4 separate regions of the Homo sapiens genome follow, and regions 2, 3 and 4 are each linked to region 1. Evidence: fine-mapped expression QTL. A gene starts in region 1. Each other region holds a variant in brackets. All regions are shown on one strand. Distances are from middle to middle.

Region 1 (8,291 bases):
TTTAGTTTTTGGTTTTTGTTTCTGCTTTTGATAGAGACAGGGTCTAGCTATGTTCCCCAGCCTGGTCTCGAACTCCCGAGCTCAAGCAATCCACCATCGTCGGCATCCCAAAGGGCTGGGATTACAGGTGTGAGCCACCGTGCCCGGCCCCATTCTCCTTGTTTAACTGTTTACCCCACCCTCATCTCAACCCTGCACAGGTGCCCGCTTCCCACTCCCCCATCCTGCTAACTGTGTTATATCATAGCTTTAGATACATCAACTCCCAGTGTTCACTTTATTAGGATTGTGTTCATGCTATGCAAATCAAATCACTTAGGGTATATCATGATTATTTTTTCCTTTTCCTCCATAGTTTGTTTATTCCACTGGAGTTAATAATGCTTCCTTTTCCCCATTTACTTAGTTATATTTATGGTACTTATCATTAGTCCAACCCCTAATCTTCCCCCTATTGTGTAAACCTCTCAATATTTTCAAACATGATTCTTTCAGTGTGACTTTCTTGAAGAACTCTTCCTTGGAGTCTTCAAAGCAGCTTCAGCCTGAGTATGCTGCTTTCTTTTTTTTTCTTTTTTCTTTTTTTTGGGGGGACAAAGTCTTGCTCTTGTCCCCCCAGCTGGAGTGCGATGGCACGATCTCGGCTCATTGCAACCTCTGCCTCCTGGGTTCAAGCGATTCTCCTGCCTCAGCCTCCTGAGTAACTGGGATTACAGGTGCCTGCCACCACGCCCGGCTAATTTTTGTATTTTTAGTAGAGATGGGGTTTCACCATGTTGGCCAGGCCGATCTAGAACTCCTGACCTCAGGTGATCCACCCGCCTCAGCCTCCCAAAGTGCTGGGATTACAGGCATGAGCCACCACGACCAGCCGAGTACACTGCTTTTTATGCCTGGTAGATAGCTGTCTACCCAGGAGTTTCCTTTAGCTGGGTGATTCCCATTGTTTGCCTTTTGTGGCGGATTCCCGGTTTCCTCAGCCTTAACCTCTTCCCCTCTCTAGGTTTCCTTCCTTGTTTTGGTGGAGCACATCCTTCAGCAGCTTCCTGAGAGAGAAGATAAGGCAGTATCATTTGTTGTTTCACTCTCTTCTCAAACTGATTTTTTGGTAGTTTGGATATAGCATTCTAGGTAAGAAACGGTTTTTCTTCAGAAGGCATTGTTCCACTGACTTCAAATTTCCAGGCTTGAGGCAACTGTGTTGATATTTTGTATCTGGTTTTTTTTTTTTAACTTTTTCTGATTTTTTAAAATCTCTGAAATCCTGTTGGATCTCCTCTTTGTCTCCAGTTTTGTAAAATTTCATGGTGATATGCAGTACAACTCAATTCTACAGATACGTATTGAGAGCGTGTGTTACATAGTTTATCTCACTAAACACTCCAAAATATACAAAAATATCCACAAGTCCTGAGACAGCTAGAAATCTGAGGGAAGTGGGGGAGATAAGGCAAACAGAATATTGATGAGCATGTAGTATCACACATATAAATTATGCATGTAAAACTTGTAAGGGCAACATTTTCACAAATTCCAAGTGTTGATATTTTTAAGAAAGAATAATGCCGGCTCCCAACCTGATTCATTCTGTTAGAAATTTGGCCTTCCCCTGCACTCAACAAACTCCTTACCTCTTAAATCTATAGCTCTGTTTGGCTAGTAGTAAGCTATAAATAAGAGGGTGATGTTTTGGCTTTGAATCCAGGAGTTGCTGATAGCCTCCAGTGGGCTGACTTAACTATCATTCTGCAAGAGGCCACACAAGCTTGAGTTCAATGCCAGAGGTTCGTTCCCTCAAGCTTCCTAAGGTGTCAGTTGGAATAGAGCCAGGAACCAGGAACCAGAGCCCCCTTTCAGGAAGCAATCCCTAAAATGTATTTCTCCTTACCCTTCAAAGTGTACCTATAGGTACTGATAGATAGAACATCATAAAGATAGATATGCTACATAGTAAGAACATCATAAAGATAGATATGCTACATAGTAAGCTGCTCAATACATGTTTTTTCAATGGGATGAATACAGAATATTTCTCTCTATGTAGTATCTACCCAATATTTATAGAGATGACCCCAACACCCTACCCCCCACATTAGGAATCAGCCAAGAGTCATCCCTACCCTGGTGGCTCCCAGAATATGATCATTATTATTGAAAACAGTTTATGCATATTAGCTTGTTTAATTCTCACAGCAATTCTATGAGGCAGGTTTTTGTTTGTTTTGTTTTTTTGTTTTTGAGACAGAGTCTCGCTCTGTCTCTCAGGCTGGAATGCAGTAGTGCCATCTCAGCTCACTGCAGCCTCTGCCTCCCAGGTTCAAGTGATTCTCCTGCCTCAGCCTCCCAAGTAGCTGAGATTACAGGCATGTGCCACCACACCTGGCTAATTTTTGTATTTTTAGTAGAGACGGGGTTTCACCATGTTGGCCAGGGTGGTCTTGAACTCCTGACCTCAAGTGATCCACCCATCTCGGCATCCCGAAGTGCTGAGATTACAAGTGTGAGCCACCGTGCCAGGCTGGAGGCAGGTATTTTTAATCCTTATTTGATAGATTCAGAAACTGAAGAATAGAGAGGTCAAGTGACTTGCTCAAGATACCAAAGCTAAGAATGACAAAACAGAGCTTCAAGTCTAAGCAGACCCAACCCAGATCTCACAACAGATCCAGCTCGTTCCACCACAAAAGCAATTCCAAATCTCACTTGAATCCCAGGTTAGACCCCTTGGAATCTCTCACCAAGCTGAAGGGCTGCCCCAGAAGAGCTCATGGGAAAGGCCACGTGGAAGGAGCACCCATTTTATTGCTGCTTGTTCTGATGCTATTTCACTATAGGACGCTGAGTAACACACCCGCCTCTCCAGGCCTCAGTTTCCTTATCTGTAAAATGAAGTTAAGAATATATTATGAAGAGTTTTGGAAGAGGCCCATGATGACCGAGGGAAAAGAAGCAGTGAGAGGTCTCAGAAGGCCTTCTAAAAGAACAGAGTTCTGTGCTCCCTGGAGAATGATGGGAAACACAGGAGGAATAGTGACAATACGAGATGTTAAATTACTGTAGAAATTCTTAGATCTGAGTCTGAACTCCCTCTCCAAATATTCCATTATAATCCAAGACTCTATAGTTTCTACCAAAAAGTAGGTGCCTTCAAGCAGGGAGTGATCATTTGAATCTAGTTCTCTCCTGGGAATCAGTGGTTCTAACTTGGCTGCACGTTTGGATGACCAGCGGAGCTTGTGACATGCAGATGTTCAGGTCCACCCTCGGAGATCGCTAAATGGGGTGTTGCCCGAACACTTGGGATATTAAGAGTTTCTTCATATGATTCTAATGTGCAGACAAAATGGAGAGCCACTTCCCAGAGCTTCAAGTTATTCATTTTCTGGTCTGAAGTTTAACAAAGAAAAAAAAAATAAAGAAGCAGTGATGCCCAGTAGCTCTCAAAATTTAATGTGTAAACAAATGAATCTCCTGGGCATCTTGTTAAAATGCAGCTTTCAATTCAGTGGGTCTAGGTTGGGCCTGACAACCTTCTTGGTTGTTTTGTGGTTGCCGTTTTGTTTTTTAAGGCCTTAACACTGGAGGGGATTCTGGCCTTCTAAAAAGCTCCCACAGGTGCCCACGCTGCTAACCACAGACTGTGCTTGAATAGCTAGGCTACAGCTTGAATGATTACAGACTTGAACGAGAATTATGGCTCTTCTTGCCAGCTGGGACCTTCAGAAAGAAGTTACTTCACTTCTCTGAGTCTGGGTTTTCTTGTCTATAAAATTTAGGCCAGCAATAGTAACTTTATCACAGAATTCTTGTGATGCATAAATGAGCTAATGCATTCAATTTGTTTAGCACTGTACAACAAATGTTAGCTTTTTGCTAGGATAGCCAGCATTCGCGGAATGCTTACTATGTGGCAGGAATTTTCTAAGTGCATTCGTGTATTAATTCATTCAAGTCTCAGAACAACACGGTGAGGTAGGTACTATTATTTCATCATTTCCATTTTACAGATGAAGAAACTGAAGCGCAGAGAGGTGGAGTTCCTTGGTCTACAGTGGCACCTCATTGTAGCTAAGCTGGTGTTTGAACTCAGGGAGAATTTGGGCTCCTTACCAGGATCCCTCGCCAAGGACAGAGGTCAGTGCAACGAGTCGAGGGTTTGCCCTTTGAAATGGGCTAGGACCGGCAGGTGGCAGACTAGGGCTGCTTGAGTTCAAAGACCGCTTCCAAGACCAAGCCCGGAGCCAGCTCTGTGCTAAGCGTTCCATCACACAACCGCGGACAGCTTCTTCGGCTTCTTCAAACTCTCCTTTCCCTCCCCCGCACCCTAGGGTCTTCGCCCAGAATCCATCAGGAAAAATAGCCCCACATAACAGGTTCAAATCTAACCTCCCCAAGACAAAACCACGTCCGCAGGGAAAGAAGCGAGTAAAGCGAGTTTTCTGTAACTCCCCTTTAACCCAGGAGCGCAACCAGCCCGGGAAATCTACAAATCTCTCTTTAGTTCAGCAAAGGGCTGGGAGCCTAAGCCAAGGGGGAGAAAGTTGGGGAATCCCTCTTGAATTCCCCAGAACACTTAGGTGGCGCCGGGCTTTGGTGCACGCGCGCAGGGCATGCGGACAGGCACCGGAGAGGCTCTATTTTGGGCATTACTTCGGGAAGGCGGATCTTCTTGCAGGGTCCGCTGATAGCGGGTGGCAAATGAATATGAGGGGCAGTGCAAAGGGTGGGGGTTAACCGGGCGGTTTCCATGGCGCCCGGGGCGTGGGGGAGGAATGCATCCCGCAAGCTGTGGCGAAACAACTGCTCTGCCCGGAGGACCGGGCTCGAGAAGGCAAGAGACACTGGGTCGGGGGTGGAGTGGTGGCGGGGGGGTTGGGGGCGGAAGAAGCCAGGCAGGACGGGGGCGGGGCGGTCACGTGTGCCCGACTGGGCGAGGCCCCAAGCTGGCCCGGGAGAGGACTCTGCGGGCGAAGTGGCTGCGCAAGGAGAGAACTTTTCCTGCACAAGGAACGCCTCGTGGGGAGACCCAAGGCAGGAGCGGTCCGGAGCCGGCTGCGGCGTGTGCGGCCGGCCTTGGGACAGCGATCGCCGCGGGTGGCAACAGAGAGCCCCAAGCAAAAGTGGGAGCAGGAGCTTGGAGGTGAGCACAGGAAGCCCCACTTGAGGCTTTTACGCAGCCTCTAGTCTCTGTTTCTTCTGGAATAGGCAAGTGTCCTTTCAACTCTAAGAGACCAGCAGAGGCCACTGTCCCTTAAGACTGCCGGAGTCCTCACCACTTCTCCAGGATTCCAGAGGAGACTGTGGCGATGGTGAATGAAGGTCCCAACCAGGAAGAGAGCGATGACACCCCTGTGCCGGAGTCCGCACTCCAAGCGGACCCCAGCGTCTCGGTCCATCCCAGCGTCTCGGTCCATCCCAGCGTCTCCATCAACCCCAGCGTCTCTGTCCACCCCAGCAGTTCGGCCCACCCCAGTGCCTTAGCCCAACCCAGTGGCTTGGCTCACCCCAGTAGCTCGGGCCCTGAGGACCTCAGCGTGATCAAGGTGAGCAGGCGCCGTTGGGCCGTGGTCCTGGTGTTTAGCTGCTACTCCATGTGCAACTCCTTTCAGTGGATCCAGTACGGCTCCATCAATAACATCTTCATGCACTTCTACGGTGTCAGTGCCTTTGCCATTGACTGGCTGTCCATGTGCTACATGCTGACTTACATCCCTCTGCTCCTGCCAGTGGCTTGGCTGCTGGAGAAGTTCGGCCTGCGCACCATTGCTCTCACTGGCTCGGCTCTCAACTGCCTGGGGGCCTGGGTGAAGCTGGGCAGCCTGAAGCCGCATCTCTTTCCGGTCACCGTGGTGGGCCAGCTCATCTGCTCTGTGGCCCAGGTTTTCATCCTGGGCATGCCCTCCCGCATCGCTTCCGTCTGGTTCGGGGCTAATGAGGTTTCAACAGCCTGCTCCGTGGCTGTCTTTGGCAATCAGGTAGGTAGAACAGTTTGTGAATGTTCCCAGGGGCGTGTGTTAGATTGCACCTAACTATTGGGTGTGGTAGGCTATAATTTGCTGATTGTCCAACAGTGTTTGTGACTCTGGGTGACAGTAACTGGGTGTGACAGGCAGTGATTGTGATGCTGTAAGAGAGGCGGGAAACAAAAGCAGGGGGACCTGCTCTTTCATCCACAGTTGCTCTTGCCCCAGCCAAAAGCATGCTTCTAGAACATACTATACCTTCGCTGTGTCGTTCTCGAACCTGTGTCAGTCCACCAACTTAGACCTGTAATTTCAGGAATGCTCTTCTGTCTGGCAGCAGCCCCTGGGCATCAGACTATTCTGGTGTCATCAGAACTTGGCAGTGCTTTCAGTTGGACCAACCAGCTTTCCTAGAGTGCAGTATCTCCTCTACTGCATAGAATTGCAAAGCCATGCCTGGTGGTGTTTGGCACTGCTTTTACCTTGTTTTACACACAGCTGAAGCCAGGACAGTGGGAGCAGTGCTTTGTGCCAAACTCCTTGCCTGGGATTTAGAGCCAAGTCCAGCAGGATGGAGTAGAAATCTCACTCTGAGTTTCCATGGCCTAGAAAGGGTAGTTCATGTCTTAATCTTTTTCTCTTTCTTTCTTATTGGAAGGAGAAGCTCAAATTCTTTGCATCTCAATGTGGTTATGATCCAGAAAGCTGGGCAGGTTGTGAACCTGAATGCCGTCTCCAAATACTCGAAGCAAATATTTATGGGAATATTTAAAGCAAACGTCCTTTAGCCAGACCACTGCCTCCCAGTCTCGCATCTTTCCAAGCACGTACAGTCCTGGCTGTGTGTTTAACAAAGGATTGGTAATCCTGTCTCACACGTCCATGTGAAGAGACCACCAAACAGGCTTTGTGTGAGCAACAAGGCTGTTTATTTCACCTGGGTGTAAGCAGGCTGAGTCTGAAAAAGGAGTCAGCAAAGGGTGGTGGATTATCATCAGTTCTTATAGGTTTTGGGATAGGTGGTGGAGTTAGGAGCAATGTTTTTCAGACAGGGTGGATCTCAAAGTACATTCTCAAGGGTGGGGAGAATTACAAAGAGCCTTCTTAAGGGTGGGGGAAATTACAAAGTACATTGATCAATTAGGGTGGGGCGAAACAAATCACAATGGTGGAATGAAATCAGTTAAGGCTATTTTCACTTTTTTTGTGGATCTTCAGTTGCTTCAGGCAATCTGGATTGCCTGAAGCATGCAGGTCACAGGGGATAGGATGGCTTAGCTTGGGCTCAGAGGCCTGACATTCCTGTCTTCTTATATTAATAAGAAAAGCAAAACAAAATAGTGAAGTGTTGGAGCAGCGAAAAATTTTGGGGGTGGTATGGAGAGATAATGGGAGATGTTTCTCAGGACTGCTTCGAGCGGGATTAGGGGCAGCGTGGGAACCTACAGTGGGAGAGACTCAGCTGAAGAACGGTTTTGGGGTAAGGGGTGATACTGTGGGGTTGTTAGAAGAAACATTGGTCGTATAGAATGATTGGTGATGGCCTGGATGCGGTTTTGTATGAATTGAGAAACTAAACGGAAGACACAAGGTCTGAAAAAGAGAAGGAGAAAAACAGGTATTAAAGGACTAAGAATTGGGAGGACCTAGGACATCTAATTAGAGAGTGTCCAAAGGGGTCCAAGGGGATTTAGCATAATTACTTGTTTGTTTGGTGAGTTTTTGGGCTCTATTCTTGACAGAGTCCTCTTTTTTAAGTTTGAAGCTGAGCTTGGTGAGGTGTGTTTTTAAAAGACCGTTAGTCCATTCTACCTTTCTTGAAGATTGAGGACGGTAAGGGGTATGAAGGTTTTACTGAATACCAAGAGCCTGAGAAACTGCTTGGGTGATTCCACTAGTAAAGGCTGGTCCGTTATTGGACTGTATAGAGGTGGGAAGGCCAAACTGAGGAATTATGTCTGACAGAAGGGAAGAAATGACCGCAGTGGCCTTCTCAGACCCTGTGGGAAAGGCCTCTACCCATCCAGTGAAAGTGTCTACCCAGACCAAGAGGTATTTTAGTTTCCTGACTCGGGGCATGTGAGTAAAGTCAATTTGCCAGTCCTGGGCGGGGGCAAATCCCCAAGCTTGATATGTAGGGAAGGGAGGGGGCCTGAACAATCCCTGAGGAGTAGTAGAATAGCAAATGGAACACTGAGAAGTGATTTCCTTTAGGATAGATTTCCATGATGGAAAGGAAATGAGAGGTTCTAAGAGGCGGGAACCCACATGGAAGAGGTTATGAAATGACAACAGAATAGAATGGGCCTGTGAGGCTGAAAGGAGATA
Region 2 (8,291 bases), 31 kb after region 1:
AGTTTCTCAGATAAGAAGTGCTAAATGAGGTCTGCTGTCATGGCACATGCCTGTAATCTCAGCACTTTGAGAGGCCAAGAGGGAGGATTGCTTAAGCCTAGGAGTTCAAGACCAGCCTGGGCAACATAGTAAGATCCCTGTCTCTACCTAAAAAAAAAAAAGTATTAAATAAAGAACAGATGTTTTCAGTACCATCATCAATAAAGGTAATCGCCTCTGTCTTCTGTTGGTTCTGGATCTAGAAAGAGAGGCCAATACTGAAATCTCTCCTAATACTACCGGACATTGCCCCAGTGTGGGTGCAGTGTGGACAAGCAGGGCAGCTTCCTTAAGGTGAAGGTTGAGCTGATTCCTAATGAGTGAAGTGACCAGGGGTTGGTACATAGGGGAGGTTGGGCCATTCCAGGAAGTATCCCAGTAGTATCCTGATGGAGACTTGTGCCTCTTGAGAGCTACTTAAACTAAAAGCAATATGGGTGCAGGAAGTTGGTGTAATATTCCCAGAGTGCGGTGATGAAGACTTTGGAGACTCTGGGGTGACACAGATACTCACTGGGTCAACCCCTATGCCTGTGCACAAGACTTTAGTCTCACAAACCTGAGACTGAAGGAAGCGGGCAGGGGTAGGGGGACCGGGCGGGGGGCGCCCAGGCTTATCAGGTGTTCACAGCTATTTTCCATCTCCTTGTTCTTGATCTTTTTCCAACAATGCTGTTAACAGGATGTCCTTCCCTTGACTTGAACTCCCCCCAAGCCTCAACATCAAACAGCCCTGTGTGGATTGCAGGATGTAGGTTGGAGTGCCATCAAGGATGATTAAAACAACAACCACCACCACCATCACCATCACCATAGGGTTAAGGTGATATGTGGTGTTTCCTCTTCTTTCTTTCTTGACCTCCTGACTTCTTTCTACCTAGCACCATTCCCAAGTTAACCCAGTGGAATATCTCCCCTCCCTTGATTCTACAGAGCTAAGGGCCTTTTTCTTTGGTGAGTCATTCATAGGTGGGAGGGCACCCTGTAAGCTCTGGTGGCCCAGCCAGACACTTCTGCTTTCTGACTTGATTACAGGCATCTTTCCTTTTTCATGCTGTGCAAAAACTTGAGCTCAGCCTCTCACCCCAACACAATTCAAGACGCAGCCTTGTCCCAGCATGAGCGCAGATAACAGCAGCACCATCTGTGTTTGTAGAAGCGTGAGACAGGAGGTGAGGATAGATCTTACTTCCTTCCCAACTTCTTTGGGTTCAGCCGTGTGTCCGGAGCCTTAGGAGGGAGGAGTGTTTGCTTTGGCTCCCCTCCGATTGCTTCTCCAGAGAGGAGTTGAACACAAGTATTTTTCAGTTCCAGGAGGCTGCTTTTGATTGCACAGCCCTGCCAGCTCCGGAAAAGAGGGACACAGAAGCTGGAGCAAGGTTGGGAGCTGGTTTTCTCCTTTTTTTCTTCTCTCCCCTGGAAACTCCTGATTTCTGCATACAATGACTGGGTTGACATGGCTGGGTCTCCTTTGGCGGCTCTAGAGGTAGCTGTCTGTATGCAAGTCTATTTGCTGTGTTCATCTACTGGAAAACATAGGAGGTGAGCAGGCATAAGGCATTCGTGGGCTTTTGTTTCGTTTTTTGAAACAGTGTCTCAGTCTGTCGCCCAGGCTGGAGTGCGGTAGCATGATCACGGCTCACTGTAGCCTCAACCTCCCCGGGCTCAGGTGATCCTCCCACCTCACCTCATCCTTTCGAATAGCTGGAACTACAGGCTCATGCTACCACGCCTGGCCAATTTTTGTATTTTTTTGTAGAGATGGGGTTTTGCCACGTTGCCAGGGCTGGTCTTGAACTCCTGGGCTCAAGTGATCTGCCTTCCTCTGTCTCCCAAAGTGCTGGGATTACAGATGTGAGCCACCACCCTGGTGAGGCATCCATGTTAAAGCAGGGTTCATTCTCAAGGCTGTTTGTTTGGGCTAGTAGCTGCCTTTTGAGCAATCTAGGCCTCCTTAGACCTTTATCCCGGGCTTCCTGTTGGGTGCTGGACAGGTTTGTGGAGACACCCATTTGAGCACACCCAGGATTCATCCCTTCTCTGCTGAGAAGCTAGACAGGAACACACCTCTCTCCCACCATTCCTGCCTAGGGTACATAGGGGAAGCCAGCAGCTGAGAATTCTCTTGATTTCCTTCCTCAGAGTGGTGGAGATCAATTGTTTCTAAAGTATGCTGCATGAGCCCCTGCACCAGAACCACGTGGGTGTTCATTAAAAATGCAAATTCAGAGACTCACACCTATAATCCCAGCCCTTTGGGAGGCCAAGGCAGGAGGATTGCTTGAGTCCAGGAGTTGGAAACCAGCCTGGGCAACATGGAAAAACCCCGTCTTTACAAAAAATTAGCCAGGCATGGTGGTGCCTGCCTGTAGTACTAGCTACCCAGGAGGCTGAGGTTGGGGGATCACCTGAGCCTGGGAGGTGGAGGTTGCAGTGCGCCAAGATCATGCCACCTCACTCCAGCCTGAGGGACAGAGTGAGACCCTGTCTTAAGAAAAAAAAAAAAGCAAATTCCTGGGCACCAGAGCAGACCCAAGGAATTAGCTCCTCTAGGTTGGGACCCAGGAATATGTATTTTTGATTCTCCTTCTAGGGATTCTGATGCCCACTGAAGTTTGAAAACTCCTGGTATAGAAGCCATGGAAGCTGGACCCAGCAGCCATGTTTGGGGCCTCCAGCAGGATACCTGTCCTCTTTGGGCATCAGCTTTTTTTTCTATAGCAAGAATGCCTGCCTCACAGGGTTGCCATGAAAGCTAAATGAGGCAATGTCTATGTGAAACAGCTCCTGGAACCAAGTAAGCCCTCTGTAAACATTTACTGAGTCCATATCTATCTTTTCCCTCTCTACCAAACTCATGTTCTACAACATGCTAGTGTTAAAAAAGGTAAACGGAGGTGCAATTAAAATTTTTTTAAGAGTTTATTTGAGCAAACAGTGATTCATGAATTGGCTGGCTCCAAACCAGAAGTGGTTCTGGATCATCCTGAGTCTCAGACCATGTCTTCTGGGGATATGATGCTGCTTTGTGCCTTTTTGAGACTCAGCAAGGTTCCATGGGAAGAGAGCAGGGCTGGGAATGGAACCTCAGAAGTCTCGATGTTGATGATTAGCTCTGTGACTTCAAGTTGCTTCAACTCAGTTATGAAGTAGAGAAGACAGTTTGGCCCTGACAGGTCTCTGCTTCCTCGTCTGGACTTTGGGCATCCTGCTCTTGATCTCACTGGGTGGTTTTGAGGCTCTGGTAATATATCGGATGTGTAGGTGCCTTGAAAATGGTGAAATATTTTGCCAGTGTTGACTTTTAGTGCCCTTTCTTGAACTCAAAAAAAAAGGGGGGCTCGGTGTGGTGGTTCACACCTGTAATCCTAGCACTTAGGGAGGTTGAGGTGGGAGAATCACTTGATGCCAGGAGTTTAAGGCCAGTCTTCGCAACATAGTGAGACTCTATCTCTACAAAAATAGTTAAAAAGTTGGTTGGGTGTGGTGGCACATGCCTGTAGTTCTAGCTACTTGGGAGCTAGAGAGGATCACTTGAGCCCAGGAGTTTGAGGTTACAGTGAGCAGTAATTGCACCACTGCACTCCAGCCTGGGCAACAGTGTGAGTTCTCATCTAAAAAATCAAAAAATACTCTGGACTTGCCCTTTGACAGTAGAATAAAAAGGGCTTCTCTAGACACACATCGTGTCCTGCCTGGATTGGGGGCCATGCCCTCCATGTAGAGGGCTCAGCACTCCTGCCTTTACACCGGCTCATGGTTCAGGATAAGCTCCATCATCCTTACCGTAGGAGACTCTCTCAGAGCTTCTGGGTTTCAAAGCCTTCCTCTCATCGGCAAAGAAAGGAAGCTATACTTG[C/T]TGATTTGATCCTCTTGAGCTGAGCTGTTCGGCGGCTCCAGGAATCCTGTGGAGCATTCTGGTTCTTTTTCATTCCAGGAAACTGACCGCTTGCTGCAGAGGGGCCTTTTGCCAGGAGTGGCACGATGCAACGTTTGAGTCTATATGTGCCTAAGATGGTTCCTCTCTTCAGTGTAGGAAAATGGCTGTGGTGGCATAGCACAGAACTGATTCATCCCCACCCTCAGGACATAGGCCTGGGAGGGAGAAGTTTTATCCTGAGGGCATGGTGGTCCTGGCCCTACCAAGTTTTCTCGCAGCCCCTCACAGTTAGCAAGTGGCAATGATCGATGGTAACAAATGGGGATCGGTAGGGCTTGGACAGCCCTTGTGAAGATGTTGGAACCCTTAGGAAGATGTTGCAGTTTCCGTTCGACAAGCTTCTCTCTCCAGAATTCTTATATCTCTCCTTAGGGAGGAAGGTTCCTCATTGTCTTCCCTGGGTATGGCTGCCCCCGTATTCTCATGCTGCCCCACCAAAAGCCATGTCCTTTATTAGTGTGCCCCCATCCTGGGCCAGACCTCTGTCCCTTGCAAATAACCCACACAGTCCCCTGGCTATCACATCTTTGTCTCTGTTCTACAACAAGTTCCTTGAATCCTGCTTGTCCTGAATTGCATCCCCTCCAGCCAGCTTCCCTATGTCTTTCCAGTTGACAGCAGGCAATGAGAGAAATGAAAGCCACTAAAGAAGGCCCTCCTCCCCTTGGCCTGTCATGTGTTTTTTTTTTAGACAATGCACCATAGCCTTTATTTTATTTATTGAACAAATATTATTGAGCATCTACTCTGTGCCAAACAACAAACATTTTCACAGCTGGGGATGCAGCAATGAATGGGAAAGGGAAGGTCCCTGTTGGCAATAGCCCTCTGTTCTTGTAGAGTTCACATTGAAGGGAAGAGAGATTACACTATAAGCCAGTCACACCGGAGCGGCTAATGGTGCAAATGTCAGCCCAAGTAGGAGGGCGGGTGACTTCAAAGCAGGATATTAGGAGATGTTTTTAGCTAAGCAGGTCCCTGAGTAACTCCCTAAATAACAGGGCCAGATCTAATGGTGCTGCAATCTCTCTCTTTCTCTCTCTCAGGGCGTTATAGATGTGAGTGACTAATAGTTTTTTTGGTGTAAGCTTGAGATTTCTTTTTCTTTCCAGCTGTCTGTCTGGGATCCTGAGGCAAGCTTAGTTAACTTATGAAGTTGGCTTCTTAGGAAAAAGCTACATGGGTCCCATCCTATCTATTTCTTGAAGTGCATGCTCCAGAGGAACTGGGTTTTGCCCATGGCAGTCCATGAAGCAGCAACTCTTCCAGGGCCTGCCAGTAAGTAATTGGCAGGGTTTTACCCCTGAAAAAATCAGAATAGGAGGGCTATTACCAGAAAGTCCATCCAGATTTAGAAGGAAACATGGGAGGATTAGAAACATTGGTCGTCACGTGAGCATCCCTTTTAGGAATGCCAGAATGTTGCCTTGCAGACAAAGGAGACAATTATTCTCCTTTGGGCTGTTTTATCTGTCAAAGGTCAGGGAGTGGCACCTTTGAGTTGGGGGGGATAGATGGGGGGTTAGTGTTAAGGGAATGCAGAAGACCGGAGAATCCCTCTGTTGGCTGTTGATTGCTGGTGTCTGGGACAGAATTGGTGGGCAATCAGTGCCAAAGCATTTGAATGGCGCTTTGCACATCGCCTACTTCAAATGTGAAAACTTTGGAGTAAGATTTGCATGATGTGATCTGATGTGATCTCAGCTGGCCGGGTGGTTTGAAAGACACCCACTCATTTTTCCTCCTTCCTAGCCGAGTCATGGGGAAGTTCTGTGACCACTGGCTTTCAGCACAGTCAGCTAGAGGGACATTAATGTATTGAGGTGACAGTGATTTGTTCTCTCACTGAAAGAAAAGGCAGTGGATTCTTCACTTCTGCACCCAAAGTAGACCTAGGCTGGCCCTTTGTGGAGTTCACCATGAGGACAACTTCAAGGGGAACACCAAGTCCTTAAAAGGAGGAGTGTGTGCCAGGAAGCTCCTGAGTTCATGATGACAGAAAGCAAGCATAAATACCGGGCTTAGCTAAAAAAATAAAACACGGCCTTTGTCAGTGTTCCTTTTTTTTTCTTTAATCAGAAAACTTTCCTTGTGAAACTCATTTTCTTCACCTAAACTTAGCAACTTCTCTGTTTACAGCCTAGTGTATCTCTGCTCTTCAGCTAACTTGCACCCCCCACAAAGATGAGGAGGAAACCCAACACCAAGGCTGTAGGTCAAGATCAAGGTATATTACATTATAAACCGGGTGAGAGTGAGCTCCTTGTCTTGCATCTTTCTCTTCCCTTCTGAGTAGGGTGCCTAGTATGCAGCAGGTGCTCAATAAATACTGAGTGTAGGTCTAAGAGTGAGAAGTTGATTGGTCTGCATTCGAATCCCCTCCATGCCTGATCTTGGGGCACCCCAAATGAGAGGTCTTCCCTGTCTGGGGGCTTCCTTAGGTCATTTCATCTGGCATCTACTCGCTTTGGGTGGTTAAACTCTTACAATGCAGCAAACTGCTACTGTGCCCAACTTGTTTACTGCAGAGCAGCCTGGAAAGACTTGAGTGAGGTTTGAGCTGCACAGTTCTAAGAGTTATTTCTTCACTCAGAAAATATTTCCTGAGTGCTGTCTCTGTTCTTGTGATTGTGTCAGACGTGGTATGCGGGAGGGTCACATGAGCAAATGTGAGTCAATGTCCCTGTCCTCAAGGTACTAACAGTTTAGTTTGGGAGACAACACACTACACAAAAAGAAACAAAACTAAGCATGACATAAAAACAAGAAACCTGTAAAGTGTAACTGTGGCAAAGAAACCAAACTGTAGCTGGAGACACCTCTCACCCTTGCTTCCTCCGACAGCTACACATTTGGGGACATTTGAACTACAGAATGGAGCATATGAGACTGGAGGGAGTGTCGGGTGTGAGGGCAGTCACTTTTCTGTGGCATTCACCTTGTCCGTTGAGGGCTTTGGAATCAGATAGCCAAGGGTATGAATCTCAGTTTTGCCAGGAGAAGCTGTTTTGACCTTGGGCAAATTATAGAGGCTTTCTCATCTGTAAAAACCAAACCAGAGGCCAAGGCACAGTGGCTCATGCCTGTAATCCCAGCGCTTTGGGAGGCCGAGGCAGGTGAATTGCTTGAGCCCAGGAGTTCGAGACCAACCTGGGCAACATGGTGAAACCCCGTCTCTCCTAAAAATACAAAAAATTAGCCAGGTGTGTTGGGCGCATGTCTGTGGTCGCAGCTACTTGGGAGGCCGAGGTGAGAGGATTGCTTGAGCCAGGGAAGTAGAAGCTTCAGTGAGCCGAGATCGCACCACTGCACTAGCCTGGGCAACAGAGTGAGACCCTGTCTCACAAACAAACAAACAAACAAACAAAAAAACCCACAAACAAAACCCAAACCAGAGATGATGGTGCCAACTTCAGGGGGTAGTTGTGAGGGCATAGATGAAATATCATGTGAAAAAGCCTTTAGCATGCTGTCTAACACATAGCAGACACTCAGTACATATTCACCTCCTTCCTCCTGGTTTGAGTAACATTTAAGACCAGCGCCTTTAACCTAATGGATAAGAGTACAGATGAGTACTGATGGCCAGAGCTTGAAGTTTAGCCTCATCGCTTACTGTTATGTGACCTTGGGCAAGCTACTTAAATGCCAATTTCCTCCACTTTAAAATAGACATTAGGGGAGCACGCCTTCTATTTTATGGAGTGAAGTGTTGCCCCCCAAAAGAAAAAAATTAATAATTAAAAAATAAAATGATTCAAAGAGTATATATATTTATAGGGTGCTTTGAGCACAGTGTATCAGCTCTCATCGCTATTATTATCTTCCCTAGGGATCAATGATTGTAGGCTATCCTAATTTCAGTAGCTGCTGCTTCCTGCATTTCTCTAACCTCTTTCACCCAAAGAACTGAGGGAATCCAGGAGTCAGGGCAGTAAAAGCCACCAGCATAATCACAGCTTTCAGGACAAACCCTGTGACGGGGGCGGGAGCTTGAAGGAAGTCTGGAGTTGGCCAGCTGTAACCCTACTCCCTAAGTTCTTAGAGATCTTAGCTTAGCCTTTAAATCCATAAACCCCCTTCCTGAGTGATTTTCCACCAAATCAATGAGGTTGTTTAGATTGTCTTTGTCTTTGAAGGCCTGCTACCTCCTTGATCCCGAGTTGACCTTTTCAAAAGAAGCCTTGGATTTGGAGATTTCACAAATAACAGTCATATGAGCGGTCTTTGCCTGGACATTATCGGTTACCGTGGAGCCGCCTGGCATTCCTGGGTGCTCGGGGCTCATTCTCATGATTAAGCTCAAGCTCTG
Region 3 (8,291 bases), 51 kb after region 1:
GGCATAAAAAATAAAAAAGTGAATGGTATCAAAGGACCATTCACTCAGCCTCAAACAATGAGAAGCAGCTTCAAGAAGGGGGCTGTTAAGGGTTTAATTAAAGAATTACTATTTCCTTTGGGAGTCTTAGCTCCTCTCAGATGATGGAGCAGCTTTCATTCATGTGGAACCAGCTCTTCTGGGGTGGGACCATGGGAATTTTCAGCCATCTCTGTTTTTTTCCTTTCAGTGTTCAAGGAGAAACCTAAATATCCCCCCAGCAGGGCCCAATCCCTGAGCTATGCCTTGACCTCTCCTGATGCCTCATACTTAGGTTCCATCGCCCGGCTCTTCAAAAATCTCAACTTTGTGCTGCTTGTCATCACCTATGGTAAGGTGTCAATGTGTCTAGGAATGCATTCGAGCTGGAAATGTTAGATGAGAGGCCTGATGTGTCTTCATATATTACTCTTTCTAAATCCCAAATGTGCATGTAAAGCTGTTGTCTAGGGTCAATCCAGAGGACCCAGCTATGCCCAAGGGCCTTTGCATGTGTTGTAAAGTCCACCTAGAAAATAATTTCTTCCCATGTCAGGTTATCTGACAAATGCCTGTTGGTCCTCCAAGTCTCATCTCAGTATCACTTTTGTAAAGCAGTAGTAGGTAACTTTCCCTCTCTTACCATGCTATTCCTTGTACATCTTAACACCTGTCATTAAAAAAAAATTTTTTTGCAGGTCTATTTCCCCATTAGACTGAACTCTCTGAGTGTGGATTTATGTTTTTCATCTTTATAGTTCCTCAGCAGTGTCGGGCCTCGAGTGACTATTCCAGTAGTTACTGAATTAGTTAATTAATTAATGCATGCATGCATATATGTGTCTTGCCACATGAGTCACTCCTCAACCAGTCCTCCCTCATCCTGTAATTGACTTCTATTTTATCTGAATGCACAACAACATCCCTCTTTCATTTCATTTGCTTGGCTCTTGGAAAGATAAATTGGAATCTTTATGCTAACATGTTGGCTTTCTTTCCCCGCATGGTGTTTTCTGTATCTTATTTCAAACCTGTAATAAGATTGTTGGATCGAACAAGGGCAAAGACAGAGCCTCATAGCATTCCACTAAAGAGTGTCCTCCAGATGAATGCCAGTCTATTAGTTAGTACCCTTAGTTCAAGCTGCTACATATCTACCCACCTTTATTGCTATTCAGCCTACATTTGGTCATTTAATCCACCAGTTAAAGTTTGATTAAAACTAAGCGTTAGCAAATCTGTGACATGTACCGTAACCATATGAAACAAAGAAATGAAATTGGTTTGACATGACTTATTCTTAGTGAAACCCCAGTTGGCCATGGCTTCATGTTGCCTATAGACTCAAAAGCTATTGTTTTATGTTTTATAACAACAATAGTGCTTACTATGTGTCAGGTGCTTTTCATATCTGATTTTATTTAACTTCCAGTACACCTATGTGATGTTGGTACTAAAATTATCCCTATTTAACAGATGAGGAAACTAAACTCAAAGTGGCCAAATAACTAGCCCAAGGTCACACAACTTTCAAGTGGCAGAGCCAGAGTTCAAATACAAGTTTGTCTAACTCCAAAGTCTCATTCTTTTGCTTTTTTTCTTTTTTTTAAGACAGAGTTTGCCTCTTTTTGCCCACACTGGAGTGCAGTGGTGCGATCTGGGCTTACTGCAGCCTCTGCCTCCCCGGCTCAAGCAATTCTTCTGCCTCAGCCTCCCGAGTAGCTGGGATTACAGGCACATGCCACCATGCCCGGCTAATTTTTGTATTTTTAGTAGAGCCAGGGTTTTGTCATGTTGGCCAGTCTGGTCTCAAACTCCTGGCCTCAGGTGATCTGCTCACCTTGGCCTCCCAAAGTGCTGGGATTACAGGTGTGAGCCACTGCGCCCAGCCAAAATCTGCATTCTTAATGCCTGTTCTGTAATTGCTGATGTTCCTTCCTAGAATTGTGCCAGAGTTTCATTTTAGGCTCAACAATACATTTTATCTCAACTAAAATGTTTATCTGCTGAAACACTAGATAAGAGGTGGCTTCATCCTGGTAGAGGGGCAATCCTGTTTTTCAGGCATACATAGAAATTAGGTGACCTTTCATCTGGAATAGCTGTAGGTTTGTCTTCAAGATCTTGGTCCTCCGTTCCTCATTTCCTCCAGTTTCTCAATTCTCTGAGTATGTCTCCCCATTCATCCGCAAAATAAAGACAAAGTTTCCAATGCTTAGAGAAGTCCAACTAAGGAAGTTACAAGTTCCCCATCACCGGAAGGTATTCAAGCATAGATGGGACTAACCACTTGATGGGAATGTTGTAGGGGATCTCAGGCTAAAGATGGATAGTGAAACCAGATGGCCTTTGGGGGCCCTTCTAGACTCAGGATTCCATGACTCTAAGAGCTTTTACTTTCGCTAGAGTTGGACATCATGAGTGCATTGACCTCTGACAACCATAAATCTTGCTGCATCTAACAAGAGGATATTTGAGGCCTACCTGGGATTCTAGGGCAGATGAGTGCTTCATAAATATTTTCTATAGCTGAAAATGGTGACAGTGGTGATAACTGGGCAATGGTCCCATTCCAAAGGCTGTGGTCCTCAGTGCTGGAGGTTGTTGGTCTTAGGGCCAGGTCACTGACTCATGAGAACAAGAAACAGAGACAAAATGTACCAGAAACATTGTTGCTCCTGGTCATCGAGGGGTCAAGCCTAGGCCATGCTGTGGGGA[G/A]CAAAGCTACTCCTCCTCCTTCCTCTCACATGCCTGTTTGCTTACGTGGTCTTTAATCTGACAAAGTAGTTTTAATCCTGTACTTCTGGACACTTTTCCTTATCTATTTGATTAAATGATAACCGAGGAAATAAATAGGAAAGCACTTCTTGAATGGTGGAGTAAGGACCTTAGAAAATCCGCTCCTCTATAGAAACAAGAACAATGGCAAAAAATATCCAAATGAATTTTTTCAGAACTTTTAACAAATGGCTTGCAACAATCCAAGCAGCATTTATTCAAGAGAAATGGCTAAATATCAGTAACAACAGTGGGCCTTGTGTTTTCACTTGCCCTATTCCAATCCCTTTCTCCCTACTACAGCCTTGCAGCCATGGGGCTGTGACATCCAGCAGCCTCGCAGCCGTGGAGCTGTGAAAACCAACTGTCTCATAGCCATTGGAGGGAGCAAAGTCGATTTGGAGCTCCACCCCTGAGAATTACTATTTGACCTACCTAGCAGGTCCCCGGAAAAGCCCTATTCATAGGACATGTTGCTATTTAACCTGACTTGGAGTTTGCTAATGGGAAAAGCCCTATTGCCAGGGCATTTGTTGAAAACAGTCAATGGCACTGCTTAACATTGTAGCTGCCTGCAGTGGGGATAACAGTTGGGGTGAACAAGAGGCTGCCTGAAAATGCTGAAAGGAAACTCTGGAGAATGTGATGTCCATATGGGGTTCTTTGCCAAAAAGAAAATGATTCTTAGACTTAATCACAGATTTGAAAAAATTTTTGACGGAGGAATCATGTTAATTGCTTTACATGCATTATCTCATTTAATTTTCAAAACAAACCCATGACATAGCCCTTTGTTTCATTTTATACATGAGGAAACTGAGGCTCTAGAGTTTTAGCTTCTTGCCTATAGGGCGAGAACTATAGGCACTTACTCCAACTGTTAATCTTTGCTTTCTTTTCCTACTGTGTTTGTTCCAAATTAAAACAAACAAAAACAAAAACAATTTTTTTTTTTAAACAGAGTCTTACTCTGTCGCCCAAGCTGGAGTGCAGTGGCATGATCTCGGCTCACTGCAACCTCCACCTTCCAGGTTTGAGCAATTCTCTTGACTCAGCCTCCCGAGTAGCTGGGATTACAGGTACCCGCCACCACATCCAGGGAATTTTTGTGTTTTTAGTAGAGACAGGGTTTCACCATGTTGACCAGGCTGGTCTCGAACTCCTGACCTCAGGTGATCTGCCCGCCTTGGCCTCCCAACAAAAACAATTTTCTAAAATGCCCTCTATCAATTCAACTAGATGCTTTGAAATCCTCCAGAATTACCCCAGTCCTCCTAATCCCCTTGCAGTTTCAGATTGGACTTTGAAGAACAAAATGGTTCATACTTTTTACATTGTACACATAGTGTTCATATTTAGCTCTGAATTATATGCATTTAAAGAGCATGTGGCTAGGAATTAAGCAGGCAACAGCATTTCACAGGCACATGTACTGGACATGGGTGGACATGTCTTGGGTTAAGAGCCTTGAGTGCTGGACTCGTAAGTTCAGAGTTGGCTCATAAGAAATGGGAGGTCTGAGTTTTGGTGTCAGCTCTGCCAGATACTGAGTGTACCACCTTCATCCATCTGTGCTGCCCATCCTTCATCTCTTTAATACTCTCCACCCCCACTAGAAAACAGTAATGATACTTATTTCCCATTGGAGTGTTCTGAATGGAAGTGAAAGCTTTTAATGCAGTTGAGAATAAAGACATGGCATGCCTCCAGACTGCCAGTCTGCCATTGCCAGACTGCAATGCTATTGCATTGGTAAACTTACTGGTTTCCAGCGTTGCTTCTTTGGTCCAAACCAGATTTCACTAAGAGGGGGAGTAACTGTCCTGCAGCTGGTGGTATTGTATTTGTAGTGGCTTTTCAAGTGGTTCTCCCAGCTGATGAGTCAACTGCCCAGAACTGAGGTGCAGCGATAATTGAAGGCCTTGGAGGAAATCGAGGGTCCAAGTGTTGCTGGCTTTTCCCTAGACTTCTGGCTACACTCTTAGAGGTAGGGTTGAGAGATAAAATAAAGACCATCCAGTTAATCTGAATTTCAGATAAACAACAAATACTTTTAATATAAATATGTCTTATGCAATATTTGTGGCATATTTATACTAAGAACTATTATTTATTATAAATGTATTTATTTGCTATTTTTTTTCAAAATCTGGCAATTCAGTTTAGAGGGGGAGAGGTGCAGGGGTGGAGCTCGTGCTTGATGTTGCGGAAATATCATATCAGTAAGAAACTGCCAGTAAAACACCCTTCCTCTCTCCTTTAACTTTGGCAATGTGGGAAGACTCAGGGAACCAGAAATTCCACCTGTCTGCCAGTGTCTTTGGTGTGTTTCACAGTAGGGTAGGGTGGGATGGAGAAAGGAACCTTCCTCTGGCTACCTTCTCTTTGTGTCTCTGGTGTGTTTCACAGTAGGGTAGGGTGGGATGGAGAAAGGAACCTTCCTCTGGCTACCTTCTCTTTGTGTCTCTGGATCTTGCATTCACATGGCCTCCTCTAATGTCTTATTATCAATGGCATAACAACTGCCCTGTTGAAAAGAATTGTTGAAAAGGCTTCTCTTCTAGAAAATGGCATACTCAAAGGGCGTACTTTTCCCATAGTTATGCCCCAGACTTGCTGCCAGCAAGATTATTCATGCTTCTGAATAAACTTGCAGTGCCTCTGGCATCTGAACTCAGAGCCTCAACTTGTGTATCCCAAGGTTCACCTTCCCTTGGGGCTCTCAGCACTTTATCATTGCTCCACCTACATGGACCTAGGGAGGGGGCTTCATGCCCCCTCTAAAATCCTGGCTGAGGAGTGGGCATAAAATCCTCCAGATTCCTGGGAGCTTTGCCGAGGTCAAGCTGGCCCTTTAAAACAAGGACTAAAGGGAAACGCAGAATAACCAAAACCCAAAGATATGATCTGGGGTCAGTGTTTCCCAGACTTCCCTGAGGATAGGACCCCCTGGGGTGCTTGATTGAATGTGTGCATAGATTTCTGGAAATTCAGATTCAGAAAGTTTGGGTTGGGGCCTAGGAATCTGCTTTCTACCAGCATCCCAGATAATTCTGACTTGCAGCAGAGTTGAGAACCTCTGAGGTAGCTGTGTGATGGGTCTTGAAGCGCCTTCCCATCCCAGCTGCCTCCATGTTAACCCCACCACCTGGGAGCCTGGGTCTGGTCCCTGATCTTTTGTATCTTGAAGGCCATGTATTCTCAAATTCCAGACATTTTAACAAGTGCATTGGGGTTTTATTGTTGTAGTTGCTAAAGATGCAGATTCCTGGGCCCCATTCCAAGAGATTCTGATTCAGTAGGTCTATGGTAGGGCCTCAAAATCTGCAGTTTTAAACTTTAAGGAATTCTAATGTCAGTAGTCACCGGAACACAGTTTGAATAAAATTGTTATTGGCTGGGCTTGATGGCTCACACCTGTAATCCCAGCACTTTGGGTGGCCAAAGTGGGAGGATCGTTTGAGGTCAGGAATTCAAGACCAGCCTGGTAAACATAGCGAGACCCCAAAGAAATTTTTTACAAAGAAAAAAATTGTTTTTGACAAAGGAGAGAAAGAGACTCAGAATGATGACAGAGTCCTTTCTGCCTCTCTAAAGCCTGCCTCCTCAGTAAGTGGCACTACTCCCAGGTGACTGATTCCAGGAATGACCAGGCCTTTCAGGGAAGATCACATTTTCTCTTCCCTGGCCCAGCAGGCTCACCTTGCTGAGGATGATCAGACCTGAATAGAATGCAGTCACCTGTACTCCTGTAAGGGGTACTCACACAGGAAGGAGCATGCATTTCATTCCTGCCCTTCTGTGTGGGATGCCCAACCCCTTTGTTTTGGCAGTAGAGTGGACTTACGCTGGTTAACTGTGTCTGGCAAACTTTGACAATATGGTGAGGGACATCTAGACCAAAGATGGATTCAGAAAACATACATAAGCTCCTAAATCCTCTAAGGTGGGGCTGCAGAAACAGTGGAACAGATTGGCAGCCCTCCAGGATGAACCCCTGCTCTTCCTTCCCTCTCGCCGCCCTTTAGCCCCGCTTCAGTCTGCTGTCTGGCCTGGAGCAGGGATGGCTGTTGTTTAACCACATTGCTCTAGGGAGCCAGTGCTTCCACCTGGAGCACGATCAGAATCACCTGGGAGGCTTATTCAAATGCAAATTGCCGGGGGCCTCACTCCCAGAGTTTCTGCTGCAGTAGGTCTGGGGTGGAACAGAGACCACACTTTGGAAACTATTTCACTAAACCATTGAGCCCCAGAAAAACCACTCAGCTTCAGCAGTATGGGCCAACCTGTTCAGGACTCTGTTCCCCAGGTCTTTATCAGGACCAGTGAGCACTGGTGTATTTTTTTTGCTCCCAGTCCTTCTGGATAATTTCCTTTCTTTTTCTGTGGATTCTGCCATCCTTGGCTCATCCCAGTTAGCAAAGCAGCTGTTCCCCTGAAGCTAAGCCTGAGTTGGAACATTCCTTGCCCTTTGCAGTATCAGGCTAGGGCAGGCAAGAGGCTTAGAGAGGAGCGGGAGGAATGAATGGGAAGACGGGAGGAGACTATTTTCTTTCTTCTCCTTCCCACGCTCCACCTCACTTGGCTTTTCAGGAATGTCTCCTTACGGGATCTCTTCACTCGGAAATGGACTTTCTAAGTGGCTGAGTATGTACTATGAAGGGCAGATGGGAATGCTGCTTGAATGAGATGTTGCTGAGAGCCTCATGATCATTGCAACCATCAGCCTGTCAGTTGTAGTGATGTTTGGGGACATGTCTGGGTTGGTTGGCCCACTGTGGCTCACTGTGCTGCTCACTGTGTGCACAGTTGGCCCACTGTGCTGCTCAGGAGACTGCATTGAGCCCAACCTTGTAGCATCCCTGGGGTGAACTGCTGGGAGAGGCTGGGACATGAGGAAATTGTTCATGACCTGAGCTGGGAAAATCTGATTCAATAATCAGCTTTGTGAGGATGTAAAGCAGAGTGATTAAGATCAAGAAATCTGGAGCCACAGGGCCTGAGTTCAAATCCAGCTCCATCACTTAATACCTGTGTGATTGCAAAGCAAATTATTTCCCATTTTGCAAGATAATTTGACCTTCGCTTAACTTTGTATCTTTTACTCCCTGGGAACCTGATAAAGGGAGTACGTCAACTACCTTTAGGCAACATTGCTTATGATAAAAATGTCCTCTGGTGATACAAATGGACAGAGAGACCTATTCATTCTTGTGGGAAGCCATTCTTTGTGCTTCTTGGAGTACAATGACTCTTTTCACTGGCCTGTCACTTATGGGGCCCCTGGAAGCTACCCCTACGGAATTGTTACAAGTAATAGTGGTGCCTGTGAGCATTAAGCCAGGGTGGTTGCCATACCCACCTTCCCTTGCACCTTAGCCATCATCTGAAAGACAGTAGCTTCCGGAAGGCTATATGAACTGGGGTTCTATGGATTGGTTCCATTGAAGAGGAACTCCTGAGGCTGCCCTGTCCACAAGCTATGTGTCCTGACT
Region 4 (6,895 bases), 40 kb after region 1:
GAAAGGAAGGTTGAAACTAGCAAAGACAGCTGTATTAGTCTGTTTTCACGCTGTGATAAAGAACTGCTTGAAACTGGGTAATTTATAAAGAAAAGAGGTTTAATTGACTCACTGCTCCAAATGGCTAGGGAGGCCTCAGGAAACTTACAATCATGGTGGAAGGGGAAACAGGCACATCTTACATGGTGGTAGGCAAGAGAGCGAGAGAGAGAGCGTCTGAAGGAGGAACTGTCAAACATTTTTCTAACCATCAGGTCTTGTGAGAACTCACTACCATGAGAATACCATGGGAGAAACTGCCCCCATGATCCAGTCACCTCCCACCAGGCCCCTTCCTTGGCACATGGGGATTACAATTCGAGATGAGATTTTGGTGGGGACACAGAGCCAAACCAAATCAATGGCTAAGAACAGTAGCTGAGGGGTTTGGACCTGCTTCCTTCCTCTGAGAGGGCTGACACCTTGAAGTTCTTTAAGCAGGGACGGTGGGGTCAATGCAACGCCAAGGACCATGAATGTGAGTACATCATGCAGGTCGGGCAGAGGAGAGATCACAGTTGCCTGGGAGAAAGGCAGAAAGGTCCGAAGTGGGACAGGGCAGATTCAAAGAGGACTTTGCAGAAGGGTTTGGGAGGATCTGAGACGAAGTGCATATAAGAGGGCAGAGTCAAAGATGACTAAGATAATTGAGGAAGGACACGCAGATGGAGCCAGAGAAGGAAGTGAAGCAGAACCAGGGTAGGATGATGGTTTGTATGACTTCCCCAAATAAACCAAGTGCATCTTGGGAGTCCCAGTGGCCTCTGCTGCCTGTCACCTCTGCTGTGTGAGAGTGTGTGGGAAAGGGCCAACCCTGCAGACAGGGAGTGAGCCTCAGCCCGATGAGCTAGGTGGTATTTTCTTCCTCTTGTGGATTAGGAAACACACAGAGAGGTCAATTAACTTGCCAAGCTCTAGTAACTGGTAGGGCCGAGATTTGAATTGAGATCTTTCTGACCCCTGACCCTGAGCCCTTAAGCACTATATTAGTATGATGATGTCTCTGAGGAATGTTGAAGCAGAAAGGAGAAGTGGGAGATTCATTTAAAAAAGCATAAGGCCGGCTGGGCGTCATGGCTCATGCCTATAATCCCAGCATTTTGGGAGGCCGAGGCGGGCGGATCACAAGGTCAGGAGATTGAGACCATCCTGGCTAACACATGAAACCCTGTCTCTACTAAAAATACAAAAAAAAAAAAAAATTAGCCAGATGTGGTGGCGGGAACCTGTAATCCCAGCTACTCGGGAAGCTGAGGCAGGAGAATGGCATGAACCCGGGAGATGGAGCTTGCAGTGAGCCGAGATCGTGCCACTGCACTCCAGCCTGGGTGACAGAGTGAGACTCCATCTCAAAAAAAAAAAAAAAAAAAAAATAGCGTAAGTCCAGTTATGGTGGCTCATACCTGTAATCTCAATATTTTGGGAAGCTGAGATGGGAAGACCACTTGAGACCAGCCTAGGCAACATAGTGAGAGACCCCAATTCCACAAAAAATTAAAAAATCAGCCAGGCATGGTGTCATGATCCTGTAGTTCCAGCTACTTGGGAGGCTGAGGCAGGAGAATTGCTTGAACCCAGGAGGCGGAGGTTGCAGTGAGCCAAGATTGCGCCACTGCACTCCAGCCTGGCGACAGAGTGAGACTCTGTCTCAAAAAAAAAAAATTTTTTTTAATTTAAAAAATAAAAATAGCATAGCATGGGCATGAGGCAAGCCCCAGATTAGGTCATAAAGGGACCAAATTTGATGGAAGCCTTCAGCCTCAGGGACTCTGGTGCAAAGAAAGCAGCTGGCTCAATAAAGGGATACATACATATATATATTTTTTAATTGATACATGGCATTTTACATGTTTATGGAGTATGGACTTTTTTGACTCAGCACTAGGAAGATAGCTCCTGAGAGCTCTGAAATCTAAGGGAACATGTCCAGCCATACCCAGTGATTATGCCCAGGGGAGAGGAATGAGCCAATTGGTTTGAGCAAATTGGGGCCCAGCCCTAGGGGTGAGGGTGGGCTTGCCTTTGTCTGAATAGCACAGCACGTTGGGAGAGGAATGAGTTTCAGTAGGTGAGAACCTGTTTGTGGAGGTTGTTGTCTCCTAACAGGAGCAGGATCCACCTTGCCAGTGGCTTGGGTCAAGAGGATAAGCTGCCTGGGACCCAGCAAAAGGCTCAGATGGGGACTACTGGTTCTTTTCCTGTTCCATTTGGACTGAAGCCCTCACCACTGTGTGGACAAAGAGCTCCTTGCCTTGCCTTTTGGGGAAGCTCTTGGATCCTCCCTGGATGGCCTGGCCATATTCTGGCCCCATGACTAGGTAGGATTTAGGAGGGCATCTGTGTGCTAGGGTTCTGATTCAATTGTGACTTAGGGCTTTGTGAATGGTGGGTGGGGACAGTGGATGGTGGAAGAGGATGGGAAACAGTGGTTCTGTGGATCTCAGAGCTGGCATAGCATGTGTGTTGTGTTGTGTAATGGGTTGGGTATGGAAATCTTACCCCAGACGCAGCCTGATGATTTTCTGGTTTTATTCTTGCTCTGCCAAATGCATGAGCTAGAATCACAAGTGAGACATCATTCAAAGTATGGCTTCTCCCTGTCACCTAGGGCCCTCAGACGACATAGACATGTTTTTAACTGTGACATTTGCTCTGGAAACGTTCCTGATTACTGACATTACAGTAGCATTTAGAGGTCACCTTTGAGTTTGCAGAAAGGGTGAAAATAAAATAGAAAATGAAAATTAAATATCCCAGGCTGCCTCTCCATCCCTTCATTCATCACATTTTTTGTTAAACACCCTCTATTGGGATGAAGTAAACTATAGTTGTAAAGCTTACCTAACTTTGAAATACTGTATGTTGAAAACTCTAGCTTTGCTACCTATAGCTGTGTGACCTTGAGCAAGTCAGTTAGCCTTCCTGCATCTCAGCTTCATCATCTGTAAAATTGGGACGATGTTAGACCCCTCTTTCTGGGGTTGTTGTGAGGCTTGAGATACTCTGCATAAAGCTCATACATTTTACTATGATGAGTATTATCATGTGCCAGCCTGCAGAGATCAGTGTGAGCCCTGCCCTCATGGAGCTTATAATCTGGTTGGGAAGACAGATGTTAATTAAATGATCATACAAATATAAAATTACCTATGCAGGAACCCAACCTCATGTAAGGGATTAGAGCAACCTTCCTGAGGAAGCAGGATTTGCACTCAGACCTGAAGGATATCTGCATTGACTAGCTGAAACAGGGCAGAGAGAGATTCTAGTCCAGGTAGAGGAGCTGGTGCAAACTCCCCATGGTCACTTGAAAGACAGAAAGGAGCTCAGTGTAGCAAAGTCCTGAGGAACAAGCTGGTGACAAGGGTCAGACCATTAGACAGAGCCCATGTGCAGAACCTTGTGGGCTGTGCTTAGGATTTTTACCTCTAATTTAAAGCAAGGAGAAGTCACTGCAGGGTGTTAAGCAGGACGTTTTCCAAAGATGGCTGGCTATCATGGAAAATAGCTAGGAGCAGAGCTGCATGGAAGCTATTAGGAGGCATGAGTCATACTTTTTCAGAGGCCAGTATCTCCCCAACTCCCTTGATGAAGATGGGGATGCCTGCATATGAAAATACAGGTACCTAGGACCCACCTCAGACCTGAGGGATAAAAACGGGGTTGGTACTGGTGACGTTTGTTATGGGACAAGTTTGGGAAATACTGCTATGGGATGGGTAAAAATGAAGAGAGCCTAATTTTGAAAAGTATGTTCCAGAAGAGCTAAGACTATGACTTGGTTTGACCATGAATTTTGTATTTTGCCCATGACTTTGTGTTTTGTTGAGAATGATAAAACTAGAACAAGTGCAGGGATGTAAGTCAACTCAAAACCAGTTAGCAGTGACATTCATTCATTTGCCTTCCCAAGGTGGGTCTCCAGGAAAGATGCCAAATGCTCCATGTGCCCCGTTCTCCCACATTTTAAATTAATGTTTCACTGATTCAGGCCCCAGGTCTCTGATTTGTACCCCAGAGGTTTCCTGTCAAATGAATGACAACCCAAATGGGTGAAAATGTAGACTTCCGTGTTGACTAGTATCACACCAACATTTCATGGAAGGCAGCAAAGTGAGCCTGGGTTCTGACATCAGACAGAACTGGCTTAGGAGCCCAGCTCCTCTGCTAGCTGCCTGTGTGACCCTGGGCAGGGTGCTGAGCAGCAGGGTTTTTTTTTTTTTTTTGCCCTCTCTCTTTTTTGTTGTTACAAAGTTATTGGCGATAGGCTGGGTGCAGTGGCTCACGCCTGTAATCCCAGCGCTTTGGGAGGCCGAGGCGGGCAGATCACTTGAGGTCAGGAGTTTGAGACCAACCTGGCCAACATGGGGAAACCCTGTCTCTACTAAAAATACAAAAAT[T/C]AGCCAGGCATGTTGGTGGGCACCTGTAATCCCAGCTACTTGGGAGGCTGAGGTAGGAGAATCACTTGAACCTGGGAGGCGGCAGAGGTTGCAGTGAACTGAGATCATGCCACTGCACTCCGTCCTGGTGACAGAGTGAGACCCCGTCTCAGAAAATAATAATAATTAATTAAAAATAAATAAAGTTATTGGGGTTAAATGAAAAGATAAAGTGTATTACATATTCGGCGCATAGTAGATGCTCAAGATACACTAGGGTATCCTACCCTCTCCTTACTTTCCCATACACATTTTTTTTTCTTACCACTGTGAGTACAATGTAGAAAGAACCTGGACCTTAATAGAGAGATGTGTCATTCCTAGCTTTGTGTAGACAGGATTTTCCACCAACGTTCATCTGCTCATCCATCCATCCATCCATCCATCCATCCATCCATCCATCCATCATGACTATGGAACAGACCTATATACTAGGAACTAGAAATAGACTCTCCCTAAACACTGCTCTTAAGAAGCAGGAAAAAAATATGTATTGAAAAAACAAAAGAGGAAGCAGCTTACAGTCTAATCCTGATGTTTTGGTTTTCCACACTGGGCATAAATGTACCTCCATAGCCAATTTCCTCCTTGAGAAAGGTTACCATGAGACAGTGTTGCTGCCCAGCTGGGGTTACTGTAGGCCACTGCTAAGGCCCACCCATCCAACCTGCTGCCTGGAGAAGGCTTAAAAGCCGGAGTTGGGGTGGAACAGCACTCACTCAAGCTTGGTGTATAGATGGAATGAACAGAGTCCAGCTGCCCCAGAGGAGGAGGGCATACAGTGTAGCACCAGCTGGGAGGATTTCTTTAATGGGGCAGAAGATTAACTGAGAATTAAGATATCCTGTGTTGGGACCTCAGAGCTTTAATTTTCCTTTGGAAATGAAAGAGTCACAGAGCCTCAGATGATGTCTGTATCTTTCCTCACTCTTGCAAATGGGACCCTGGGAGATTCTACTTAACTTCCAGACCTCCAACTCCAAAGTGCTTAGAAGGCCATATATGAGCTGGAGTGGGCCCAGCTTCCCAGCTATGAAGAAGGTTGCATTTGCCCCTCTGCTTGTGGCTGGTTTCTACCTTCAATTAAAGTCTTGAAGATGAGCAGTAGGAAGCCTGACTCTGACAAACCAGTATGACCAAGGATCAGCTAAAGCTCCAAGGACACAAAAGAGGCCTCTGTTCTGCAGAAGCCTGCCTGCCTGGGCCTTTCTCCAGGCTCTTAGCCTGGGATGCACTGGCCAGAGAAGCCAGGAGATCTGCTTTCTCACCTCCACTCTGCTAGAACTCTGGGTGACCCTCAACAAGTCACAGAGCTCAATTAACCTCACTTGGCCTTTGTTTTCTCCTGTAATTATTGGGTTTGTAATTATAATAAACGATTACAGATGAACTTTCAAACTGTAATATTCTATCATTTTAACCCACAAATATGGCCAGTTGTGTTATCTGTTGTATTTTTGTTTTAACATTTTTCCTGCTAACAGATTATTAAGCTCCTTGAAGGCAGAAACTCTGTCTTATACCTCTTGGTACTTTCTAAAATATCTAGCAGAGTACGTTTTAAAGATGCATTTGGTTAATTGATTACATACTGGTATAAAGAACTCTACACAGCAACTATGAGTGACCACTTTTGTGAATATTCCAGAACTGAGAACCACTAGTAAACATCTTGAATGGCTGTAATTGACAGAAGGAAAAACGAATCAAGGGGGTCAGCAGATTGGCAGTTGATGGATGATGTGAAAGTGAGGAGCGAAAGCAAATTGTTTCTTTACCTGTAGCTCTTTCAAGTACAACAAAGGAAAAATGAGACCTTACGACAAAGGAATTACTCATCTTCCTTCACTCTTGGAATCTGAAGCTTGCCTGAGTTCACAAGCTATTTTCCCATTTCCGCCTCAATATTATGTGCAGCAGAAGGGCTTTTGGGAATTGTATCACAGCCAGTCAGTACTGAAGCCAAGCCTTTCTGACCTCGGAAACACCCAAGTCATGTTATCTGTCGGTCACTGGAGTTTGGACTCCAACCCAGATAAGAAATGGTTTAGCACTTTGGGAGGCCAAGACGGGTGGATCACGAGGTCAAGAGATGGAGACCATCCTGGCCGACATGGTGAAACCCGTCTCTACTAAAAATACAAAAATTAGCCAGGTGTGGCGCACGCCTGTAGTTCCAGTTGCTCAGGAGGCTGAGGCAGGAGAATTGCTTGAACCCAGGAGGCGGAGGCTGCAGTGAGCCGAGATTGCGCCACTGCACTCCAGCCAGGCGACACAGCGAGACTCCATTTAAAAAAAAAAAAAGAAAAAGAAAAAAAAAAGAAATGGTTTAATTTGTTGGGGGTGTGTGTGTGTTTATAGCCATTTTTTACGTGCCTATCTCCTATGTGTATAAATTTATGCAGTTATGTGTGACT

Which allele goes with the higher level. Alleles are on the strand shown, and positions count from the first base shown. SD is a standard deviation of normalised expression in the study named. Not every link is listed here.
For the expression in left ventricle of the gene that starts at base 4,954 in region 1, A is the high allele of the variant in region 3 and G is the other (large effect, 1.0 SD a copy in GTEx).
For the expression in subcutaneous fat of the gene that starts at base 4,954 in region 1, T is the high allele of the variant in region 4 and C is the other (small effect, 0.16 SD a copy in GTEx).

The links. PIP is the estimated chance that this variant, and not a neighbour inherited with it, causes the effect. A credible set is the group of variants that fine-mapping cannot tell apart.
Region 2: its variant is the best candidate, but not a certain one, in a credible set for the expression of FLVCR2 in monocytes (TOPMed, PIP 0.63).
Region 3: its variant is the best candidate, but not a certain one, in a credible set for the expression of FLVCR2 in left ventricle (GTEx, PIP 0.69).
Region 4: its variant is the best candidate, but not a certain one, in a credible set for the expression of FLVCR2 in subcutaneous fat (GTEx, PIP 0.52).

The regions. Positions count from the first base shown.
Region 1 is chr14:75,573,667-75,581,957 of GRCh38, forward strand. FLVCR2 (FLVCR choline and putative heme transporter 2) reads left to right here and starts at 4,954. Exons shown (of 10, transcript NM_017791.3): 1 at 4,954-5,975. The coding sequence starts at 5,307. It overlaps FLVCR2-AS1 (FLVCR2 antisense RNA 1), which reads right to left and starts at 5,922. Exons shown (of 3, transcript NR_110552.1): 1 at 4,111-5,922; 2 at 2,739-2,879; 3 at 1,235-1,427. RefSeq lists an enhancer at 4,060-4,119 and a silencer at 4,830-4,899.
Region 2 is chr14:75,604,414-75,612,704 of GRCh38, forward strand. All of the region lies in intron 1 of FLVCR2 (FLVCR choline and putative heme transporter 2), which reads left to right. It also overlaps the pseudogene RNA5SP387. Among named protein-coding and RNA genes, the nearest start is that of FLVCR2-AS1, 29 kb to the left of the region's middle. The variant C/T (reference allele first, on the strand shown) is at 3,899.
Region 3 is chr14:75,624,383-75,632,673 of GRCh38, forward strand. It overlaps FLVCR2 (FLVCR choline and putative heme transporter 2), which reads left to right. Exons shown (of 10, transcript NM_017791.3): 3 at 230-370. Among named protein-coding and RNA genes, the nearest start is that of ERG28, 32 kb to the right of the region's middle. The variant G/A (reference allele first, on the strand shown) is at 2,737.
Region 4 is chr14:75,614,637-75,621,531 of GRCh38, forward strand. The region is part of intron 1 of FLVCR2 (FLVCR choline and putative heme transporter 2); the gene reads left to right. Among named protein-coding and RNA genes, the nearest start is that of FLVCR2-AS1, 38 kb to the left of the region's middle. The variant T/C (reference allele first, on the strand shown) is at 4,440.